2 linked regions of the Homo sapiens genome follow. The main gene of each other region encodes a partner of the protein of the gene in region 2 in a complex. Each region holds a gene or a part of one and is shown on either strand. Other genes may lie near its edges.

The links.
Region 1: the proteins of IFFO1 (region 2) and XRCC4 are in contact, whole or in part, in a crystal structure (PDB 6ABO), measured with the Homo sapiens proteins. Residues at the interface, in NP_001317253.1 of Homo sapiens: Arg469, Glu470, Tyr473, Ile477, Gln479, Ile480, Glu481, Glu483, Leu484, Ala487, Lys488, Asp490, Met491, Arg493, His494, Leu495, Tyr498, Met501, Lys505, Leu508, Asp509, Met512, Cys515, Arg516, Leu518, Ile519, Thr520, Gln521; in NP_001304941.1 of Homo sapiens: Trp155, Val158, Gln159, Phe162, Glu163, Cys165, Val166, Lys169, Glu170, Glu173, Leu176, Tyr177, Phe180, Val183, Leu184, Lys187, Lys188, Lys190, Ile191, Leu194, His195, Lys197, Leu198, Ala201, Ala202, Arg205, Glu212.

The regions. Positions count from the first base shown.
Region 1 is NC_000005.10:83,070,503-83,082,594, reverse strand, and holds the start of XRCC4 (DNA repair protein XRCC4), read right to left. Parts: upstream 5,049-12,092; 5' UTR 4,980-5,048; exon of another isoform or gene 4,933-4,979; intron 1-4,932. Other genes in the region: TMEM167A (protein kish-A precursor), read left to right, coding at 5,272-5,274.
Region 2 is NC_000012.12:6,551,212-6,564,115, reverse strand, and holds the start of IFFO1 (non-homologous end joining factor IFFO1), read left to right. Parts: upstream 1-8,073; 5' UTR 8,074-8,086; coding exon 8,087-8,859; intron 8,860-12,612; exon of another isoform or gene 12,613-12,718; intron 12,719-12,904. Other genes in the region: NOP2 (28S rRNA (cytosine(4447)-C(5))-methyltransferase), read left to right, coding at 170-225, 345-502, 602-801, 946-1,035, 2,145-2,232, 2,312-2,452, 3,046-3,185, 3,329-3,418 and 3 more. UniProt on the Homo sapiens protein: Nuclear matrix protein involved in the immobilization of broken DNA ends and the suppression of chromosome translocation during DNA double-strand breaks (DSBs).

The sequences.
Region 1 (12,092 bases), on a different chromosome or scaffold from region 2:
GCTTCTACTATGAATCAAATGATTCACGAAAGGTTTTTAAGCAAAAAAGTAATGTTTTATTCTTCTGTATATTATTTTGAAATAATTCTGAATTTACAGAAGGGTTACAAAGATAATAGAAAGTTCTCATATACCCCTCACCCAATTTCTTCTAATATTAACATCTTATACTACCACGGTGCATTTATCAAAACCAGGAAACCAACACTGATACATTTCTATCAACTAAACCATAGACTTTATTTGGATTTCACCAGTTTTTCCATTAATAACCTCTTTCTGTTTCAGGATCCAATCTAGCATAACATATTGCATTTAGAATCTTACATGTAAATACACAATTTTTTATTTATATTTTAAAAGTATCACTCTGGCTGACATATGAGAATAGACTGTAGGGAGGCAAGGACTGAAAAAAGCAGAGAGAACAGAACACAATTACTATAATCCAGGCAAGAAATGATAGTGGGTAATAACAAAAATCTGAGCAAGAGATGATCAGTATACTAATAGCAGAAATAGTAGAAAACTGTTGAATTCTAGATATATTTCATAGAAAAAGCCAACAGATTTGTTGGAATACAAGAGAAAGGAAGGAGTCAAGGATGACTCCAAAGATTTAACTGAGCAACTGGCTGTATAAAGTTGCCATCAATTCAGATGAGAAAGAATGGGAAAGGTTTGGGAGGAAAGGAGTTCGGTCTGGGACATCTGAGTTCAAGATATCTTTTAAATATACCAATGAAGATGCAGAGGTAGAAAAAGAGGAATTGGAACATGGAGCATAGAAAACTCTTTAGAGGATTTTTGTTGCAGAGAAGAGCAAACAAATGGGGTTGAAAATGGAGAAAGGTTAAGAGAAACATTTCTTAAGGTAAAAGAAATAAGACATACATTAAATAGAAGTGTCTTTTTTGGTGAAACTTCTTTTTTTAAAAAATGTTAATGTGTATATTTGAGGTTTACAAGTTGACATTATAGGATACACACAGATAGTAAAATGGTTATTTTAGTCAAGGAGATTAACACCTATCATCTATCTTATTTTTTGTGTGTGACAAGGGCAGCTGAAACTCTACTTATTTAACAAAAATCCCTAACAGAATAAAACTGTATTAACTTTGGTCCTCAAGTACATTTCAGTCTGAATTGAAAAGCCATGTGGGAAGGGAATAAAAACAAGGGGGGAGAAAAAAAGGACAAACACTGGAACATGAAAAACCTCTACCTGAGGTTAGGGAGGCTAGCTGAGGATAAGAGGAAAAAAGCAGAACAATTGTCTTTCAATATATGTGAATAACAGTGAATGAAAAAAGGTAGGTAATGTAAAAGGTAATGTAAATCAACCCTATCATTAACACTAGCAACAAAGTAAAAAGAGAAAATGGGGAGAAAGTGGTCTGGTGATACAAATGCAATACCAACTTAATACTAAAACCTTTTATAGCAGTCCTCTCCTTATCCAAGGGTGTATATCCCAAGGCCCCGTGAGGAGGCTGAATCCAACTGCCTTCAATCTGAGCATGCTTCTGTTCACATTTTCTAACCACAAATTTAATTCCTTTTTTATCTTAACTAAGCTTTTATAATGCACTATGGCTATAAGTTTGGCAGTTTGAGGTGTGACAGTAAAACTAGCATAAATTTCTTTTTGCTTATTCACAATTTTACAGATAGATTTGTTCTTACCATAGTTCTTAACAACATCAACATAGGATTTCTTTTCTTCCTTATTAAGTGGAGAACTTTCCTTTTTTTGCTTAAAAGAGGCACTTTACAGCTACTCTTTGGCATAACCAAATTGCCAGCGTCGTTACTCTTGTGCTTTGAAGCAATAATTAAGTAAAATAAGTATTCCTAGAACACACGCACTGTGATACCACCTCCATCAATCTGATAACCAAGCAACTAAAAGGCAGGAAGCTTATACAGCAGGGATACGCTAAACAAGGAGATGATTCATGGCCCCGGGCTGAATGGGATAGGATGGAATAAGATTTCATCACAACTCAGAAAGGCATGCTATTTAAAATGTATGCATTATTTCTGGAATTTTTTTTTTTTTTTTTGAGATGGAGTCTCGCTCTGTTGCCCACGCAGGAGTACAGTGGCACAATCTCGGCTCACTGCAGCCTCCACCTCCCGGGTTCAATTGATTCTCCTGCCTCAGCCTCCTGACTAGCTGGGACTACAGGCACATGCCACCACGCCTGGCTAATTTTTGTATATTAGTAGAGATGGGGTTTCACCATGTTGGCCAGGCTGGTCTCAAACTCCTGACCTCAAGTGATCTGCCCGCCTTGGTCTCCCAAAGTGCTGGAATTACAGGCATGAGCCACCGCACCCGGCTGGAATTTTCTACTTAATATTTTCAGACTGTGGTTGATCATGGGTAACTGAAACTGCAGAAATCAAAACCTCAGATAAGGAGGGACTACTGTATTTAGTGCCTAATATATGCAATTCAACCATTCCTCCATTATAATTCCTCCTCTCCAGGGACTTTTAATTTAGCAAAGACAAAGCCATGCACAGTAATAGCCAACACTTTCTGAGTGCTTACTGTATGCCAAACATTTGCCTAGATGATTTACTTGTAATAACTCATGTAATCCTCATAACACTGAGGACACCTGTGCACTGGCGCCACAGAAAACTACAAATATCCACTATTTTTACATACGATTTTAATATACCCATGAAACCAAAGTTGGAAATATTCTTCCAGATGCAGGTGAGATAATACTTTTTGAACAGGCCAGACGTGGTGCGGTGGCCTACACCTGTAATCCCAGCACTTTGGGAGGCCGAGGCGGGAGGATCACTTGAGCCCAGGAGTTTGAGACCAGCCTAGGCAACATAGTGAGCCCTGTCTCTACAAAAAATAAAATAAAATTAGCCAAGTATGGTGGCATGCAACCATGGTCCCGGTTACTGGGGATACTGAGGGAGGAGGATAGATCGCTTCTGCCCTGGAGGTTGAGGCTGCAGTGAGTCATGATTGTGCCACTGCACTCCACCCTGGGCAACAGAGCAAGATCCTGTCTCAAAAATAAAAATAAATAATAATTTTTGAACAAAGGAATAACACAGACAGATTTTATTTCTAGTAAGGAAAGGATCCAAGATGGTTTTAAATGAGGATTCACTGCAAAGCTGCCAGAAAGATTTTAGAAATTGTGATATAATCTGAAAACCAAAAAGTAGGGGGTTTATGTAAGACAATGGAGCTAAACTACCACCTCCCAAAAAAAACTCACCACGTCAGATTAACTTTGATGTTTTACATAAATGCAATAAACATTATACATATTTGTTCAGCCTCATTTATTGGCATATGTGTTTCTCTATAGATAACTTAAAAACTGGCAATGCCGTTCTTTACTGTTTTGAAGCTCAGGTACATAAGAAGTCATAGCCTAAAATTAATTAAAATATATAGATATAGCAAATCAATTGTGATCTCTAACAAGTTAAGCTTTCTGATGCTTTTCACAGGTAGCCTGAAGCAGAGCTTCATACAGAAGTATTACCTTTATATGTAACAAAGATCAAGACAATCTTCACATGAAACCAAGGGCAGTTATGTCTACAGACACATTTACTGCCCTAAAAGCCAAGCTCGATAAATTGCACAACATAATTTCCATAACTAAACCAGGTTTGTTTAATTTGAATGGCAAGACCTAAAAGGTATAATATAAAGGAATTACAAGACAGAACATTAAAAGACTTTTTTTATCCTTAGGTGGAGAGTACTGTATCTTTTAAATACCTTTCTTATTCCCCTCTCCCCCAACCTTATTAAATTCCTTAAAGGAACAGACCATCTTTGTTCCTATGCTGCAATCTGAAGATCCATGAATAAAGCAGGCACCCAGTAAATACTTGCTAATTTGTGTATTTGACCAACTCTTGACAATTCAATATAACAGACTCAAATATCAAGTTAGTTATAGTTTAAAACAAAACCTTTGTGTGCCCTAGTGAACAATGTAAACACAAATAGCAGAATCCCAAATCTTCTAATCATTGTGTTGCCCTAAATACAAAAGGGTCTCATAGGCCGAATACAGTTCATAAACCAAAATCTCACGTGAGTTACCTTCTCTCTTTCTCTCTATCCACCTTCTAAGTCCATAAAAAATTGAAAACATTCTGAAAAGAACTCTCTCCTGCCTGAGAAAAAATACACCACACATTTAGAACCAAAAGCTTGCCATAAGGGGGCAAAGAGTGAAAAACTCTCATTTCTAATACTTTATTAGAATTCCAAGAACTACGCAAATTCAAACATGTCAAAGCGCCTGTTTCTCCATCGATAAAATGCAGAAAGAAAAACGTGTGTGTGTAGTAGAACCTCACCTAATGGGATAATTAAAATCAGAAAAAGCTAAATACTACTACTGATTAAAAGTTGCCTTGTCATTTGTCTTGCCAGTTGATCTCTTTAAAGTACCTAATCAATCGCTGCAGTCCGCAAACGGCAGTTCCTTCCCATTGGTTACCACAGAAAGTTCTTTCCTGACCTCAAATTGCCTAGTACGTTTCAGCCTCGATGCCTGGTTGGAACCCACAGTTTACCAATATCTGGGGATTGAAAGGACAGGCCAGTGCTGGGGAAATGCTCAAACAGCCTACTCAACACTACCCTCTGGATTCAACCGTCCTCCCAATCCCACAACCAACACAGAGCATTTCAAAAGTGCTTCGCATTCCCAAGAATCCCTCAGATGCAAACGGAGAAACTGAAAAGGGGGTGAACAGGTCGCACCCTGAGGATAATGCCGAGAACCCTAGCATCCCCAAAAGCCCACAAGAGGAAGTCGCGGGAGCTCACAAATTGAGGGGGATTCTCGCATTGTGGAGTTCTAGGGGTAAGTAGCAGGGAACTTTTTTAAAAAGAAAGCAAAAAGATAAAAAGAACAGAACCTCAGATTTTTGTTATTTAAAGAGGCAGCCCCACTTCCGGATCCTACCTCTCCGTGACTCTACTTCCGGTATCTTCCAAAACGCCCGCTTTCACAGATCAAGGTTTTGCAACCAATGAGAGTATCAGCTACTTCCGCCGGCCTGCGGGACGTGATCTAAATCCCGCCTTTTCCGGTGGAGAGGAGCCTATCCTAGTGTCTTAACCGCCCGTCTTGGTAGGCGGTGCCGTGACAAGCCCAACCGGACGGCTGGAGAGGGCGAGAAGGGCAGACGGGACATGCAGCCTCTTCCGCCTGAGCCCCGGAAGGGTGATGTGGCTGCGGCATCGCCGGCCTCGCTATGGTAAGAAGTGGGGCTCCCAGGTCGCGGTTGATCTTCGAGAAGGGGTTGTGGATCTAGACTAGGGCTGGAGTTTGTGCGGCAGCCCGGGGTGTGTGGGCCCGGAGCTGAGAGGCCTTGGAGCCATGTGGTCCCTCCACGGCCAACCAGAGAGAATCAGGACGGACTGTCCGAGGAAGACTGCTGGGTCGGCAGCCCGCCCCTCATGCAAAGTCCGCTTTCCTACTTTGTTTAGGAAAAAAAAATGCGTTGGTGTGTTTTAACACGTTGGCTACGTAGATTATGTGTGGTCATTGACCCTTTGAAGCATTAGCGCTTCTCGAGTTTCCGCTTGTTTTGTTGCAACTCCTTATCTCGCCCTAGGGGCTTTACTCTGGTGTTATTGTTTGATTTTTGGGGGGAGTTTCTTTTGGCACCAAACTCCATACCTTCATTTTCATCTGTTTAGTCAGTAGCCTCTCAAGACCCTTCCACCTTCTTCTCTTAACTTTGAAAATGCTGCTTTACAAGCTATAGGTTTTAATAGTTAAGAGTTCTCTGCAAAGGTGGATTGCCCTTCTAGGAGCTTAATGTACTTATTGGAGTGGTGTCTAGCCTCAGGCCTTCCTCCTCTTTTACCTCCAGGTCCATGTGCCAAATGTTATGTATATTTCTGGACAAAGGATGCATGCCTGCAAATAGACCCAAAAACAACTATGACTCCAAAAAGCTTGAGTCTCCATGGTGAAAAATTATGAGCCTATGTTCACAGAAGTTGCTGCAGAATCCCATATAGCAATAATTCATTTTCTTCTCTGGACGAATTTACCACCTGGTGGGAAGATGGCAGTTGAGACTAGGAAGACTGCCACTCTTAATTCTTATACATCTTTCTAGAAACTGAAGTTGAATTCTTCTACTCGTAGTGCAAGTCAAAGATAACTCTTTTTATTATCTCACTGTCAGACTAGCTAAAAATAAGATGCATATACTGTGCTTAAGATCAACAGTATATAAACTATCTTGTCATGCTTGTTTTTCCAAAAGTAGCAAATGCTTTCATTTATTATCACGTCCTATGTACCAGGCTCTTTTCAAAAAATCAGTTTATAAGCATGGAAATATCAAGTTCACAGCAACTTCTGAATAGATGTTTACAAGTGAAAGAAGTGAAACATGAAGAGACTGACTTGCCTCGGATCACACCTAGTAGATTGTAAAGCCAGTACTCAAACTTATTTTAATGTCCAGGTCCCCGAAATCTTCATGCTGTTATCGATAGAAACACAACATAACTAAGGATGAAATAAGACTTAGTGATTTGTTTCTTATAAATATAAGTACATAAATTAGACATAGGTGGAAAACGGAAACAACTGGCAGGTGGTTTTTTATTCCTGTGAGCTTGGGATGTCAAAAGTACATTGTTTGCAGAGCTACGAAGTGAGGTTTCAAGAAGGCTAACTTAGCAGCTTAAGAAATGGATTAGTGTCTCAGTATCTTTGAGTTCGCATCTAAACTTAGTTTATTTGTGAGGTAACCCAATGGTAATGACTTAATAAACCTGAATTACTGTATTTTAATGATTTTTTTTTTTTTTGAGATGGAGTCTCCCTCTGTTGCCCAGGCTGGAGTGCAGTGGCATAATCTCAGCTCACTGCAACCTCTGCTTCCTGGGTTCAAGCAATTCTCCTGCCTCAGCCTCCCGAGTAGCTGGGACTACAGGCGTGCACAACCACGCCTGGCTAATTTTTGTATTTTTAGTAGAGACGAGGTTTCACCATGTTGGCCAAGATGGTCTCGATCTCTTGACCTCGTGATCCTCCCACCTCAGCCTCCCAAAGTGCTGGGATTACAGGCGTGAGCCACCGTCCCCAGCCAAGAATCTTTTTAAAAAGCATTTCAAGGATAAAATGTTTATCAGCAGTAATAATTTACAACTGTCAGCATGAACAGTAATTGTAGCACTTGTGAATTAATACTTTTAAAGAATTTCAGAATGCCTTGTTCCCCCCAACACCTAACATCCTTCAACATTTCTCTCATGTCTCATCTCTTTCCAAAAAGCCTCCCTTAACCCCTTCTATTTTCTTCTACTCTCTTTAGGTATCTATAGGGATATTCCTAGTTCATATGTATACTTCCAGTATCCCTCTAGCATAACCCTTTTCACAGAAAACAGCAATAAGGTGTTGCCTGCATTTCTCCCTCTCTAGGCAGAATTCTTAAAGACTAGGTATTTTAATCTCTACAGTCACAGTGCCAGCTGGAGTTATTACTCCATTAAGAGTCTGGGCCTGTAATCTCAGCACTTTGGGAGGCCAAGGTGGGTAGATCAACTGAGGTCGGGAGTTGGAGACCAGCCTGACCAGTGTGGAGAAACCCCATCTCTACTAAAAATAAAAAATTAGCCGGGCGTGGTGGCACATGCCTGTAATCCCAGCTACTTGGGAGGCTGAGGCAGGAGAATCACTTGAACCCAGGAGGTGGAGGTTGCGGTGTGTCGAGATTGTGCCATTGCACTCCAGCCTGGACAACAAGAGCGAAACTCCATCTCAAAAAAAAAAAAAGAGTCTGGGGATACAAACATGCTCAGTGTCTTCAAGGATTTCACAGTCCAGTGGGGGAAATTATTAAATAAGTAAATTCCATCTGTTGTCTGCTATGTTGTAGCAAGACAACACATGTAGTAGAGAGAGCATGGGTTTAGACTGAGCCAAACAGAGTTAGAATCATTTCCAGTTCCGAACCTTTACTTGGTTAACTCTAAGGGAGTTTATTTTCATGTCTTTTTCTTGGTGCACTAAATGATTTTCACAAACTCTGCAAAGCAGGAATGATTGCCCACATTTCATAATTAAACTGAGTCTCCAGAGAATAGATGTGAAGTATTTTCTCTCCTCTTATAGCAGAAGATATGTAGAAAATCATTAAACACAGTGGAAGGAGTAGTACTGGCTGGGAACTGCTTGAGAGATGTCCCCAAGAAAGAAGTAATTCTCTCTCACCTGTACTTTAAAGAGTATTAGGGAAGGAGTCATTAGCTAGAGGTGGGACAGCAATCTCTATCCCGTAGATAAAGGAAATGGCAGTTATGGGAACAAAAGGCATGAAGTTCAATAGTTGCATGGAGCCTTAATGTGGCAGGAATAAAAAGAAGTCAAGTATAGTGGACTGGTGATAGATGAGGCTAGAAAGATTGGGGCCAGATTTTGAAGAGCTTTGTGCCATGCCAAAGACTTTATATTTTGATGATGTTTAATTGCTTACTTGATAAAGGCTTTGGAGCAGGGAAATAAAAGGTGTGCATTTTAGAAAACCAACTGGTAACAACATAGAGTATATTTAAATGGAGGAAGATTAGAATCTGGGAGACCAGCTTGAAAACAAGTGCTGTAGTTCAGGTATACAATGATTGAATGTCTCAACTCTGATGAGCAGTTGGGTTGAAAGGAAAGGAAAACTAGGAAAATCGTTTTGAAGATACTTAATGAAGGGTGATGAAGCACAGCTCCAGCTTGGATGATTTATTGGATGGGAAAGAAATACAGCAGATCCTCAATAACGTGTATGAGGAAGAAACTCCATTCCCAATTGCACGTTGTCTTCATGTCTGTTCTTCCCATGTCTGCATGGATTTTCTCTTGGTACTCCAGTTCCCTTCTACATCCCAGAGATATATACAATGGGTTTGTTGAGGTGTCTACACTCTCCCAGTTTGAGTGCTCTGCACTGGAATGATGTCCTATACTCCAGGCTACTGGGATGGCTCCCGGCACCGTCAACACTGAACTGAAATAGCAAATAGCCAGCTATCTTACTTGTTTTTATTAATCTTTCTTAAGTGGATGTATAACTCACATTTACTTCAGTGTTGAATATTAGAAGGGTTTTGATATTGATTTGGAAGTTTGGTGATGCTTTTGTGACTAGAAATATGCCATCGGAACTTAACTCTTGTTTATATCAATTCGCCTATGGTAAATTTTTTTTGTTATATATCTTTTGGCTTAAAGTTGCATTTTCCAAGGACCTGTGGATGACGTTAAGTGAGGGCTTACTGTTTTCGTTAAGCACCTACTCTGACAGGTGTTTTATTTTACATACAAGGTTTTATTAAAGTCGTATTATTGGCCACATTTTTCATATGAAGAAACAGATGCGGAGAGCCAAGTGTCTTGCCCAACATCACACTGCTTATAAATAGCAGAGCTAAGATTTAAACGGAACCAATTTGTCACGAAATGCTGTGCCCTTTCAACTATGCAACAATACCATTAATTGCACAAAAATATTAAGAAAAGCAAATTTTTTATGTCAGGAGTGGGTGAGGAGGTAGCAGTTCAGATAATTCTGTTGCTAATATTGCTTTTGCATCATCCATGAAAATGGCATCACAGTTAAAAGGCAAGTATCTTAGTATTATAAAAATAGTTCTGATCTTATGAACCCATGAAAGGGTTCCATGAACCACACCTTTGATAACCACTTCATTAGGCTAATAGGAATCTGATGTGGGTGCTGATCTTCTCTAGCAAAGCTTTTGAATACTGATTGCAAAGAAAAACTTCCAGGAGGCTGAGGCAGGCATTCGAGACTAGCCTGACCAACATGGTGAAACCCCATTTCTACTAAAAATACAAAAAAAACTAGCCGGGCTTGGTGGCGTGCACCTGTAGTCCCAGCTGCTCGGGAGGCTGAGGCAGGATAATTGCTTGAACCCAAGGGGTGGAGGTTGCAATGAGCCGAGATCATGCCACTGCACTCCAGTCTGGGCAACAGAGTGAGACTCCATCTCAAAAAAAAGCTTTCAGGGAATTTTAAGAAACTGTAGGTGCCCAGACCAGTTAAATCCAAATTTCTGGGCAATGATGGCTTTTTAAGCTCCAAGTGGTTCTAATAAGCAGTTAGATTTCATACCATATGATAGGACATTTTATCAGTTTTTGTTTTTTTCTTGATTGCAAGGTCAGAGGACTTTACAGCAGGCTTTGCTCTTTTCCTTCAGAATACTGTCTCTTGTCCAACCTTTTTATCAAAGACATATATGGAGCATTTATTCTAATTTTTTTTCACTCTACCATTTATCATTGTTTTGCGTATGCCTTCTCTAACTCTTGACACCCTTTTGCCTTATCTTTAGATCTGAGGTTTATATAAAATAGCTCCAAAACAAAGCAGCACAAACAGCAAATTAATTGTAGGTACCATGATAATGAGATGAAAATAACTACAAAATCAGTGTTGCCAGTGGAAAACAGAGTTCAAGCGCTTCTACTCTGTACTGTAGTTTTACTCATCATATCCATGAAAGTTGTTAAATGGAAAGTATTAAGTAGAAAATGTCTCTGTACATTTTTAAAATATGACTGGTGAGAACAAATGGTTGTTTAATCCAGCCCCCACATTTTACAAATGAAATGAAACTGACAAGTGGAGATGTGAGATGTTGATTCACCTAAGGTCAAATTTTTATACTTGGATTACTTCATTAACCCAAATATTTTGTGGCCACTGTTGCTGAGAAGAGATGGGTGATGGGTTCATATCTAAATATTAATCAAGCCTGATTTCTTGCTCTCAAATTAAACTGAGGTTACTTGCCTATTTGGTGCAATATCATCACCCTACCACGTGATAAGCAACAAAGTTTAAATTTATACGCTAATAATGCCAAAAGAAAATGTTGATAATTTTTATGTATTAGTGGAAATCTTTTCAACCAATTCTGGTCACTTTTTTTGGGCAAATTATATATATGTGTGTTTGTGCATTCATATGCAGGCTAACATTCTTGCATTTTCATGTTTTGCATTTTAAGAGACTAGTTGGAAAATGCTGACCTGACCTAGATTTTCTGAATGATAAATGCTGACCCACTTTTCTAATGCTGAATAATTTTGATCACAATTAGGTCAGGAGTGTCATTTCTGTGTTCCCTTCCACCCCCAAAAAGGGATAAACTAGTTTCATGTAAAAGAAGTAAGTATTAATACAAGTAAAATTGTTACTATTTGGAGTTTTTAAATGTTGTCTTTTATATTAATTTTTGTTTTAAAGCTGGAGGAATTAGTATGTCAGTAAAAATTTATTCCCCATATAGGAGGCAGTCAACATTTGAAGCTTCAACACAGTGTTATGTATAAATAAGCCCCTTAATCAACAAATTTGCTAAACAATTTGTTTAGTGCCCAAGTGATCCAAGACTAATAAAAGTACTGTAGATTTAGTCACCCCTTTCTGCAGATTAAGTATGCTTAATAACCAGTCATTAAGCACTCTAGCCACAGCTTGTTTAGCATATTGATGTGTATATTTCTTCTGCTTTTCTCATTGTTTCTTTCTTTTTGCATTTTTATATTGCTTGGATAATTCCTTTTTTCCTTCTTCTATTCCTAATGTTTTCAGTGGTTTCTTTTTAAGATTTCTTATTTGAAAGTTTTGTTAATAAATACCTTGAGCTCTTAGACTTAGAAGTATTTTATTCGTCTTTTTTAAAAATCTCCTATATTGAATTCTTACTTATAATCAGAGTTAATGAATATAATTTTAGTGTTCAGAAATGACTCTGAAAATGAGAAATTTCATCTTAATAAATAAAATGATTTTAAAAATCTAAAAACTAATTTTTCAAATAGACTTGAAAATAGAACATTTTTTAGAGGTTTGTCAACATTGTAAGTAATTTCATGTCTAGACCCCTTCCTTAGCTTTGTATTGACCTTGCATCTATTCATTGATTAATTATTGCATCTCCTGTAGTGGTGGCCAAATAAAGTCTGTGAATTATTTTTATTATTTCAAAACACCTAACCAAATGTGATTTACTTCAAAATGATCAA
Region 2 (12,904 bases):
ACAGTGAGCAATGCTGCGCCCATCTTATTTTCATTTCTTTGCTCCTCTATTTCCTTCTGAGAGCAAGTGTTGGATTTTTATTTAGCGAAAAAATAAGATATAGAGATAGAACTGCTACAAGGGCTGATGGAAGGGCAGGCCTGTATTAATAGCCCTTGTCTCTCTTCAGTTGCTGCCCATTGAAAGAGCTGCTCGGAAGCAGAAGGCCCGGGAAGCTGCTGCTGGGTGAGTTTTGGAAGCTATTGGGATGGAGCATAGGAAGCCACTGGGGTGGGGAAGCTGTGAGGAAGGAGGAGGTATCTGTTTTGGTCTGTGAATCACTCTGTTCCTGGACCTGTTTCTAGGATCCAGTGGAGTGAAGAGGAGACCGAGGACGAGGAGGAAGAGAAAGAAGTGACCCCTGAGTCAGGCCCCCCAAAGGTGGAAGAGGCAGATGGGGGCCTGCAGATCAATGTGGATGAGGAACCATTTGTGCTGCCCCCTGCTGGGGAGATGGAGCAGGATATCCTTGCAGGGCAGAGTGAAGAGTTAGGAGGAAGGTGGTTGGGAGAGGGATTTCCAGGCCTTAGGACATCATGACACAGTTCCTTAACAGGCCCACATGCCCAGGCTCCAGACCTGCAACGAGTTCACAAGCGGATCCAGGATATTGTGGGAATTCTGCGTGATTTTGGGGCTCAGCGGGAGGAAGGGCGGTCTCGTTCTGAATACCTGAACCGGCTCAAGAAGGATCTGGCCATTTACTACTCCTATGGAGACTTCCTGCTTGGCAAGCTCATGGACCTCTTCCCTCTGTCTGAGGTACTGGATTGCCAGAATGCCTCTTTTGCTTTTCTTTTCTCGCCTCCTTACGCTGTGTAAGGAAGATGTTCGGCCCCCTTGCTCCCCTCTTCTGACTGAGCTCCTTAGCCAGCCTCACTTATTCCCTGCTGTCTTGCCCCGCAGCTGGTGGAGTTCTTAGAAGCTAATGAGGTGCCTCGGCCCGTCACCCTCCGGACCAATACCTTGAAAACCCGACGCCGAGACCTTGCACAGGTGAGGGGTGGCCTTTGAGGCTCACTCATCTCAGAAGGGAAGTGACTTCTGCCAACTCCAGAGATTCCTCTGTGCTACCCTGACTGGGTGGGGCCTTAGGACCTAAGCATGATCCTGGGGGGGCAAACCCAGAGGCCTGATGTCTCTGGCAGGATAGGATCTGGGGGCCTAGGACCTCTGTGGAATGGGAAGTTCATACTCTGCTCCCTGTGACTAGGATGATGAGACTTCAGGATGAGCGTGCTGCCCCCAAGGAAATTGGAGGGAGATCATTGAGGAGCTGGGGAAATATGATTCCTGACTGCACAAAAAAGACACATATGCACAGTCAATATTTTAAACTCATTTCCAAGGGTTCAGGGGCCCCAGGTTAAAGACCCCTGTTGTAAAGTCAGTTGTTGGGTTATATGTGTTGTATATTTCCTGGTGTGAAGAAAACCTAATAATGTAATGTGGTATAACCAATGTCATTAAATTTTTAGTATAGTGGAGGGGCTCAGCCTCTTAGAAAATCAGATGCCACTTCTAGGAAATAAAGTAACAGGAGGTGGCATCCTGCTCCATTGGGATGAAGTTCAGATCTTGAGTTAGGAGCCTGAGGTTAAGAAAAAAGGGCACCATAGGATGGAGTGGGAGAGAGAAACTGCTCAATGACTCCATGATGACTGTGTTTGGAGTAAGCACTATAGGAGTTGTGGGGTATGGGCCATGTTTTTATGAAGCATGTGTTTAATGTCTTCATCTGTCTTCTGGGTAGAGTAGCCTATGAGGTTATTAAAATCTTCATCCCTACCGGGCGCGGTGACTCAACGCCTGTAATCCCAGCACTTTGGGAGGCCGAGGCGGGCAGATCACCTGAGGTCAGGAGTTAGAGACCAGCCTGGCCAACATGGTGAAACCCCATCCTATGAAAAATACAAAAATTAGCCAGGCATGGTGGTACATGCCCGTTGTCCCAGCTACTCAGGAGGCTGAGGCACGAGAGAATCGCTTGAATCTGGGAGGTGGAGGTTGCTGTGAGCCGAGATTGCGCCACCTCACTCTAGCCTGGGCAACAGAGTGAGACTCCATCTCAAAAAAAAAAAAAAAAAATCTTCATCCCTTTTCAGGCTCTAATCAATCGTGGGGTTAACCTGGATCCCCTGGGCAAGTGGTCAAAGACTGGACTAGTGGTGTATGATTCTTCTGTGCCCATTGGTAAGTCTCCCCCACCCAAGAGCCCTTCTACCTCTGTCCCTGTCCCTACCGCATGTCACAGGGTGGTCCTTCTCCACAGGTGCTACCCCCGAGTACCTGGCTGGGCACTACATGCTGCAGGGAGCCTCCAGCATGTTGCCCGTCATGGCCTTGGCACCCCAGGAACATGAGCGGATCCTGGACATGTGTTGTGCCCCTGGAGGAAAGACCAGCTACATGGGTATGAGAGGGGCAGGCAGGTGGGATTCATCGGGCTGTCTTGCTTTTGAAAGTAGATGGGGTTGCTGGGGTTGCTGACTCACTAGTGCTCATGGAACACAATGTGCAGGTAGCTAGCAGGGTGGTGAGGACCAGTTTCTGGAGTCGGCCTGGGTTCCAGTGTGCCACTTACTACCCATCTGACTATGGATTCTCTTTTGTCATCCATAAAATGGGATGGTAATTGTGCTTGGGTTGGCCCTTGTATTACGCTTGGATTGTGAGGGTTAAAATGATGCGTTTAGAAGTCCTTGGCAGTGTTCAGCACATAGTCAGCAGCCATAACTTTTATTAAGCTGCTGTCACTTAAAAGAAGTAATTTAGTATGTAGGACCACATAGGTGTTTGGTAAAAATGGGAAAACCACATCGGTAGACTTGCCGATCACCAGGGGCTAGTGCAGAGTGGATCAGCCTATACAGTAGGCAGGCTTGTTGGGAGCGAAGTTGCCTTGAGGTGATGACACTTCTCATGTGGATTCCTGGACAGGAGGGTGGGAGCAAGTGTGGAGACAGTGGAACTGGCTGATCAGCACTGTTACTGCCCTCTCTTTAGCCCAGCTGATGAAGAACACGGGTGTGATCCTTGCCAATGACGCCAATGCTGAGCGGCTCAAGAGTGTTGTGGGCAACTTGCATCGGCTGGGAGTCACCAACACCATTATCAGCCACTATGATGGGCGCCAGTTCCCCAAGGTGAGACTCGAGCTGTGTGTCTTCTGAGGCTTCTTCCGGTTGACCTTCTCCCTTCCTGACCTCAATGTTTAGACTCGACCCTAGTAAATATTGCCCTGCTGGTTGCAGAAGAGACATATGATTCATCTGTATCTTTTCTCCAGGTGGTGGGGGGCTTTGACCGAGTACTGCTGGATGCTCCCTGCAGTGGCACTGGGGTCATCTCCAAGGATCCAGCCGTGAAGACTAACAAGGTGAGGAGTCAGGTGGTGGGCCCCTGAGAGGCCTTGGCTGGGTCTCGTAGAGCTGGAAACTGAGATGGGGACACCCTCTGGGCTCCCCTCTCCTCCTGAGGCTGCCTTTGGGTCTCTTTTTGGGACAGGATGAGAAGGACATCCTGCGCTGTGCTCACCTCCAGAAGGAGTTGCTCCTGAGTGCTATTGACTCTGTCAATGCGACCTCCAAGACAGGAGGCTACCTGGTTTACTGCACCTGTTCTATCACAGTGAGACCTCTGCCATGGCAGAGCAGGGGAGGCTGGGCTGGGGGGCTCTTTGCCCCTTAGAGCTCCCTTCAGCTCCAGCTCTGCTTTTTCCTCCGTTCTTTGTCTTCCCCCCACATCCAGGTAGAAGAGAATGAGTGGGTGGTAGACTATGCTCTGAAAAAGAGGAATGTGCGACTGGTGCCCACGGGCCTAGACTTTGGCCAGGAAGGTTTTACCCGCTTTCGAGAAAGGCGCTTCCACCCCAGTCTGCGTTCTACCCGACGCTTCTACCCTCATACCCACAATATGGATGGGTTCTTCATTGCCAAGTTCAAGAAATTTTCCAATTCTATCCCTCAGTCCCAGACAGGTAAGTAATCTTTTTCTTCCCTTCGTCACCACCTTTGCTCTTTCCACCTTTCAGGAGGCTTTATGGTGTGACAAGAGGAAGGGAAAGGAAAGATTCATGCATCCCTTACTCCAGCCTTTGCATGCTTGGCTGAGAGAACCCTCTCATTCCAGCTAGAATTGCTTTTGAGTGCTGGACCCCATGTGAACAGGCTAAAGTGTTCATATGGATGGAGGCCTGTTCCTTTATTCTGCCAAGTGGCTGCAGTTGTTCAGCACTAAATGCATTCCAAATGCAGGTTGTGGTTTCTTTTCCTTCTTGGCACAGGGTGGACTTACTGGTACTGGACCTCTGCTGGTCCAGCAATCTCAGCACTGGGTTGGAACAGAGCTCCACAGAGCTTTGTCAGCAGTTCTCTGAGCCCTTCACACTCATTGCAGATTGTTTTCTCAGCCATCTTGAGGAGTCTGGCCTGGATCTCAAGGGAAGGGTGGGGTTTTCTGAAACAGCCTTGAGAGCACTGCTTACTGGGATATAACCCTGGGTTTAGTTGGAAGAGGGAGAGAAGTGCTACTTTAGAAATAGTAGAATTTGTCTGGGCGTGGTGGCTCATGCCTGTAATCCCAGCACTCACCTGAGGTCAGGAATTCGACACGGTGAAACCCTGTCTCTACTAAAAATATAAGAATTAGCTGGGTGTGGCCAGGCACGGTGGCTCACGCCTGTAATCCCAGCACTTTGGGAGGCCAAGACGGGTGGATCACGAGGTCAGGAGATCGAGACCATCCTGGCTAACACAGTGAAACCCCCATCTCTACTAAAAATATAAAAAATTAGCTGAGCTTGGTGGTGGGCGCCTGTAGTCCCAGCTACTCGGGAGGCTGAGGCAGGAGAATGGCATGAACCCGGGAGGCGGAGCTTGCAGTGAGCTGAGATTGTGCCACTGCACTCCAGCCTGGGCGACAGAGTGAGACTCCGTCTCCAAAAAAAAAAATTAGCTAGGTGTGGTGGTACGTGCCTGTAGTCCCAACTACTCAGGAGGCTGAGGCAGGAGAATCACTTGAACCTGGGAGGTGGAGGTTGCAGTAAGCCGAGATCACGCTATTGCATTTCAGCCTGGGCAACGAGCAAAACTCCATCTCAAAAAAAAGGAATAGTAAAATTTGCTATAACTTAAAAAGTACATATTTTAATTATCCCGCACTTCATCACAATTCACATGGAAAGAAACTTCTCTGATTTAAAAAATAAATAGGCCAGGTGTGGTGATGGCTCATGCCTATAAATCCCAGTACTTTGGGAGGCTGAGGTGGGAAGATTGCTTAAGACCACGAGTTTGAGACCTGTCTGGGCAACAAAGGGAGACAGTAGTTCCAGCTACTCTGGAGGCTGAGGTAGGAGGATCCCTTGAGCCCCAGGAGTTTGAGGTTGCAGTGAGCTATGATGGCACCACTGTACTCCAGCCTGGGCAACACAGTGAGACTCTACCTCAAAAAAAAAAAAAAAAAGATAAATAAAGCCTAGTGCTTCAAATTCATTTAGAAGACCCTGCGAGGCCGGGCGTGGTGGCTCGCGCCTGTAACCCCAGCACTTTGGGTGGCTGAGGCAGGTGGATCACCTGAGGTCAGGAGTTCAAGACCAGCTGGTCAACATGGTGAAACCTCATCTCTACTAAAAATACAAAAATTAGCCGGACATGGTGGCGCACGGTTGTGATTGTCCGGAGGCTGAGGCAGGAGAATTGCTTGAACCCAGGAGGCAGAGGTTGCAGTGAGCCGAGATCACACCACTGCACTCCAGCCTGGGTGACAGAGTGAGATTCCATCTCAAAAAAAGAAAAAAAAAACCCCAAAACCCTGAGAATCACCTCTTCCTTACAGCATCTTGTTACTTCCTGTCCTCAAGAGGGCGCAGCTTCCTGTAGAAACCTTTTGGCCCAAGGATAGGCAGTGATTTTTTTTTTTTTTTTTTTTTTTTTGAGACGGTGTCTTGCTTTGTCGCTCAGGCTGGACTGCAGTGGTGCAATCTCAGCTCATTGCAACCTCCACCTTCCAGGTTCAAGCGATTCTTGTGCCTCAGACTCCCAAGTAGCTAGGATTACAGGTGTGTACCACCATCCCTGGCTAATTTTTGTATTTTTAGTAGAGATGGTTTCACCATGTGGGCTAGGCTGGTCTTGAACTCCTGGCCTCAAGCAATCCACTTGCCTTGGCCTCCCAAAGTGCTGGAATTACAGGTGTGAGCCACCACGCCTGGCCTATAGGCAGTGATCTTTTAATACAAGGTTCAACTAGGACTTGAGTAAAGGCCAAGTTATATTAAGTAATGGGAATTTAGGTAATCTGCTCTTAGGCACTGACCTAATTGTGTGGAGCTCCTGCCCAGGAAATGGCAATTCTCATATTTTAATATGAGAATATTAAAATATGGTGATAAGGCCCATTTTCTGACACCATCTGTTTAATTTTAACCCCAGGAAATTCTGAAACAGCCACACCTACAAATGTAGACTTGCCTCAGGTCATCCCCAAGTCTGAGAACAGCAGCCAGCCAGCCAAGAAAGCCAAGGGGGCTGCAAAGACAAAGCAGCAGCTGCAGAAACAGCAACATCCCAAGAAGGCCTCCTTCCAGAAGCTGAATGGCATCTCCAAAGGGGCAGACTCAGAATTGTCCACTGTACCTTCTGTCACAAAGACCCAAGCTTCCTCCAGCTTCCAGGATAGCAGTCAGCCAGCTGGAAAAGCCGAAGGGATCAGGGAGCCAAAGGTGACTGGGAAGCTAAAGCAACGATCACCTAAATTACAGTCCTCCAAGAAAGTTGCTTTCCTCAGGCAGAATGCCCCTCCCAAGGGCACAGACACACAAACACCGGCTGTGTTATCCCCATCCAAGACTCAGGCCACCCTGAAACCTAAGGACCATCATCAGCCCCTTGGAAGGGCCAAGGGGGTTGAGAAGCAGCAGTTGCCAGAGCAGCCTTTTGAGAAAGCTGCCTTCCAGAAACAGAATGATACCCCCAAGGGGCCTCAGCCTCCCACTGTGTCTCCCATCCGTTCCAGCCGCCCCCCACCAGCAAAGAGGAAGAAATCTCAGTCCAGGGGCAACAGCCAGCTGCTGCTATCTTAGATGGTTGAAAACTAGACGGGTGGCTCACTGCCATTGTCACCAGGTTGGAACTCTTGCCTCTGTGAGGATGCCTTCTCTACTGTGCATACCCATGAAATTTAATACACATTTTAAAACCTCTGGCCACTGAGTATTTTTGAGGGAACTGGGTGCTGCCTTTGCCGCTTTAAGGGTAAAGATGGGAGGTGGGACTGGGATCTTCTGAGGAGAGGGAATGGTTGGGTGCTACTGAGAAATAAGGTCAGTTTTAGGCTCCTGCATCCTTGGGTTTTCCCAGGAAGGGAAAGCCCTGGAGTCAGAGCTAGGGGTGATTGAACTCCGGGGAGAGGAGGGCAATAGAAGTGTAGGGGAAGGCGGGGCACACTAGCTCATGCCTGTAATCCCAGCACTTTCTGGGAGGCCAAGGCGGGTGGATCACCTGAGGTCAGGTGTTCGAGACCAGCCTGGCTAACATGGCGAAACCTCGTCTCTACTAAAAATACAAAAAATCAGCCGGGTGTGGTGGCGGGTGCCTGTAATCCCAGCTACTCGGGAGACTGAAGCAGGAGAATCGCTTGAACCTGGGAGGCTGAGGTTGCAGTGAGCCAAGATCGCGCCACTGCACTCCAGCCCGGGCGACAGTGAGACTCGGTCTCAAAAAAAAAAAAAGTCGTGTAGGGGAGATGGGCTTGCCACCAGAACCCATGGGGTACTGGAGGTCCTGGGCTTTACGCCACCCCGGCTGGAGTCCAGGCGGTGGCTCCCCTCATCACAGGGCTCGGCCTCAGACCCGGAAAGGTCCAGGGTCCGGCCTCCAATTGGAGCCTGTCATTGGCTTCCCCTCGGCCCGCCCCCTGACCTCTGCCCCGCTGCCGAGCCGCCTGATTGGTCGGCTCTGTCCCGCCGGCGCCGCATTGGCTCTTCTGGCTCGCCTTCCATCCCTGCTCCTGCACCGGTCTGCATCTCCCAGCAGAAGGCGCAGCCATGAATCCGTTATTCGGCCCCAACCTCTTCCTCCTGCAGCAGGAGCAGCAGGGCCTGGCCGGGCCACTGGGGGACTCACTGGGAGGCGACCACTTCGCCGGGGGAGGAGACTTGCCCCCGGCGCCTCTCTCGCCGGCCGGCCCTGCTGCCTACTCGCCGCCCGGGCCGGGCCCGGCCCCGCCTGCCGCCATGGCCCTCCGCAATGACCTGGGCTCCAACATCAACGTGCTCAAGACCCTGAACCTCCGGTTCCGCTGCTTCCTGGCCAAGGTGCATGAGCTGGAGCGCCGGAACCGGCTGTTGGAGAAGCAACTGCAGCAAGCGCTGGAGGAGGGTAAGCAGGGCCGGCGGGGCCTGGGTCGTCGCGACCAGGCAGTGCAGACCGGCTTCGTCAGCCCCATCCGGCCCCTGGGGCTGCAGCTGGGCGCCCGGCCGGCCGCTGTCTGCAGCCCTTCGGCGCGCGTGCTGGGCTCGCCCGCGCGCTCCCCGGCCGGCCCCCTCGCGCCCTCCGCGGCCAGCCTCTCGTCGTCCTCCACCTCCACCTCCACCACCTATTCCTCGTCGGCCCGCTTCATGCCCGGCACCATCTGGTCGTTCTCGCACGCCCGCCGGCTCGGGCCGGGACTGGAGCCCACTCTGGTGCAAGGGCCTGGCTTGTCGTGGGTGCACCCGGATGGGGTGGGCGTCCAGATCGACACCATCACGCCCGAGATCCGCGCTCTCTACAACGTGCTGGCCAAAGTGAAGCGGGAGCGGGACGAGTACAAGCGGAGGTAGGGATTGGGAAAGGGGGACAGGTCTCTCTGTGTCATACCACTCACAACGGGCCGCGAGTTGGTGTGGGTTCCGAAGAATCAGGGGTGAAAAGAATGAGAGTAAAGTTTGTGCTGTGTAATGAGGAGCTTGGAAGCAATTGGATGCAGGGAGACTAGAATCCGCAGAGAATGCAGAAGCCCTGCTCGTGACAGGAAGAAGGACGCTGGGAGCGGAACACGGGGGGATTCCTACTTTTCCGGCTTGTCTCTGCCATCCAGGCTTAACTGCGGGTTTTGTGCGGTGTGAAAGGGACTGGGGCTCTGCCCTACCGGTCTCAGCCCTGGGGCAGGTTAGGGATATAAACTTCAAAAGTAGGAGGCAAGGATATAGCGTAAATTTGGGAGACTAAATTGAGTGAAACTGGAAGGGGCTGGTGAGGGAGGGGCTGTACCTTGCAACGAGTGATTCTTTCACACCCCAAGGTTTCCCAAAGAATATTGATGGAAACCAGGTACCTGCTGTGGTTTCATAGGAAAAGCTCCGGGACCTCAAGCCATTGCTTGAGTAGGTCAACAAACTGGGAAAAGAAAGAGTGAAGGGAATTCACTAGGGTGAGGGTGGAGAGCAGGGCTGACAGGGGAATCTTGGCAGTATAAAGCGCCAGTGGGGAGGGAGAGTGGAGAGCCAGCAGGGGACTGAGCAGGGAGAAGCTGGGATATGGGCCCTCCCTAGGACCGCGAGGCCGCGGGGCGGGCCCGGTGCATTCTGTGGATGAAGATTTGGCTGTCTGAGAGGAGCCCGGCCCCAAGGGGCAAGGGAAAGGGATGTGATGCCAGGAGTGCTGGCTGTATACCAAGTGGATTCCTTAGATGGCTGATAACCAAGCCGATAGGACAGGAGTGAGAGCAGAGGTAGTGTCTTGCAGACTCCAACCCAAGCCTTGAGGAGGGAGCGGGTGACTGACAGGCTTTGGTTTGGCGGCCTCCCCTCTCATCTCAGCTATTATGACCCCTTGTGGGCGGGCCTGGGAACTACCTATGCAGCCCAGTGTGGCGGAGATTCAGCACTGGGTGAGGATTGGCCGAATGTTCTAGGAAATGACCGCTGGGTCTAGGGGCGACCTTCAGGGATCTCCACCCTGCTGGAGTTTACCAGATCACAGATCAGCAGGCTTTCTTTTTTTTTTTTTCCCATAAATGATAATATTTTATTATAGAAAAAGCATCCCAAATACAGGATTTCGTAAACACTGGTAGGTGAACAAGTGCAATTTTAGAAGTAAATGCAAAGTAAAGAGGCAAAACCTACAAGCATTTTGCCTTCAGAAGAAGATGTAGTGTTCTCCTGCACTAGTGATCCCACCCAGAACACAAATGTGGCTCTGTCTCCCGTGAAAGCATCAGATTTGCTTTCTGAGCTCAGTATGCCCATTTCAATAATTGCAAAGTGATGGCAAGAAGTGGCGTTGAACACATGACTACAGACCCTTGACTTAAAATATTGAGACAGGGACTTGCTCTGTCATCCGGGCTGGAGTGCAGTAGCGTCATCACAGCTCACTGCAGCCTCATCCTCCTGGGCTCAAGCAATCATCCTGCCTCAGCCTCTTGAGTAGCTGGGACTACAGGTGTGCACTACCATGTCCATGCCTGGCTATTTTTTTTTTTTCTTTTTGCGTTGTCCAGGCCAGTCTCAAACTCCTGACCTGATCAGCAGGCTTTCTGAGCTTGAGTCCTGTCCTCGTGCTGGCTTCCTTAGTTGTGGTCCATGTTATGTGTCCTTGGGAGTTTCAGTTGTCCTGAAATCATCGTTCTGCCACCCAGAACCAGCCTGCTCTGCCCCTGCAGGAGTTAACTACGCGCTCAGCAGTGGCACAGGCACAGTTCTGGAATACATCCATAACCACAGGAACAACTGCTGTTCTCAGGAGCATTTTTTTTTTAAACTGAAGGAGCGTTTGTCCTTGGTCCAGCTGTCCAGGACAGGAAGGAGTTATTCCTTGGGGACTGATTAGCTCATCGCTCTGCAGCACGCTGCTGTGTAGAGAGCCTTAGCTGGATTCGGATGGTGCGTGATACTGGCAGTGACTCTTCTTCCTCCCTAGATTCCCTGCCCTCATTCTGGTCTCTTTATAGCAACACTGTAACTCCTGTCTTCTGCCTGGAAGGCCTGGGATGGCTTGAGCGCTACACTGGGAGGTAGCTAAAGGCCTCCTGCGTTCTATTTTCAGCTCCCCTGCCTTGTGCGTGACCTTTTTTTGAGCCCCCATTTTCCCAACATAGGAATGGTCCCTGCTTTCTCTCTTCAACCCAGGGATACAGTTTTTTGGAAGAGAGATATTTGGTCCATGCAGAACACATGGATATCGCTCTCAAATTCTGCCCATGTTAAGGGAACCTTATAAGTGAGACCAGATGGAAATGGAGGTGAAAATGAACCTGTCTGTGTGAAGTCTGGCCAAAGAACAAATAGAACTGTAGTGGGCTTCCAGATGATTCATTTGTAGATTTTTTTTACCCTGTAAGATTTCCTTAGGCTTAACCTTTAGCTATAACTGCCTTACTTAAGTTTCTTCCAGGCTCTGTTGAGCTCACTGTCAGATAGCCCCTCCTGCCCTCTTTCACACATCTTGTCCAGGGTTAGCGTGCCCTTGACAGGCTTACTGTCTCCCTCCAGGGACTCGTGGGCTCCCGGCGCATGAGGGCACCACAGTTCATGCCTTCACATCATAGATGAAGAAACCAAGACCCAGAAAAGATAAGGGTCTTAGCTAAGAAAACATAATCTGATGCGACTGGTTCCCTTAGTGGCCTGACTGTATGCATGAGAATGCCAGGGAGGAGGGGAGAAGCACCTACGGGACACACAGGGAAGGGGGCTGGGAGCCAGGAAGGCTGGGAGCTGGGCTGTGTGGGGAGCCAGCAGGGTGGTGGCTGGGCTGGCTGCCTCCTCCTGCTCTGCCCAGCAGGGAGGGGCAGTCGAGGTGATGTGGAGGAGTTATTATTAGGAATACTGCAGTGCGGCTGTGAATGAGGAGATGGGACCCAGAGGCTGACACAGGAAGGAAGATGGAGGGAAGGGGAAGAAAGGGCTTCACCCAAGGCTTCAGAAGCTGCCCACTCAGATTTTAATTTTCTTGCTGTCTTCTTGGCCCCTTCCTAACCACCTTTCTTGTGTTGAAGTTTCTCTCTTGGTGCAGTTCCCCTCCCTTCTCGGGTTGACAGAAGTGATGAGCTCACAGGAACAGGATTTGAGATGTGCTGCTACGCCAGCTAGACTGCAGGGCCCTGGAATGCCGGGCGGGTCCTAAGCAGCACGTTGCCCTGGCTTCCATCTCTGTGATGGAATAGAATATGCACTGCCTGCCATGGCTGATGAGACATGACAAAGCTGGCTCTGGGAAGCATGCCCTACCTAGGACCCTGCCCTGTGGCCCAGGGTGTCGTCCGGCCCACTTGCAGTCTTAATCTCTGAATTCTGGGCCCTGGAACAGGCTGTGTCTAGTTCTCATTTGCCGTACTCACCGGGCCCCTTTACATACTCTACTTTCTCTTTCCCTCTGGGTTTGAGTGCTAGTAACCCCAGGCTCGTGTGTCCACTGCTGTCATGCTGCTGTGGGACTTCCGGCCTCTGAGCCAGTCTGGTCACCTCTCTGTGACTCCCTTAGAGGAGGCTCTGGGTGGGTAGTTTCTGGAGCTAGTGGGGAAGGACTTTGAGTGTCTCCTACCAGGCTCTTGACCCACTCTGTTGATACACTATGTGTCCTGCAGATGCTTTTACAGGGTTAAATGATACCACAAGAGGCAGGGCAGCGGGCTCGACGAGCTCTGTTCTGGTGCGGGCAGGAGGCGGGAGCCCGGATCTGTGCGACTGAAGGTGGGAGACTGGGCCGGGTGGACCTGGTGGTCTGGTGTGGGCAGGAGGTGGGCAATGAGGCCAGCCGGACAGCTGGCTGAGCTGGGGCCTGAGCAGGGATGGGCATCACGGAGGACCGGAGCCTCAGCACTTGCCCAAACAGAGCTCCTGGTGCACAGCCCGGAGGTTCCGGGAAGGCAGCTGGCG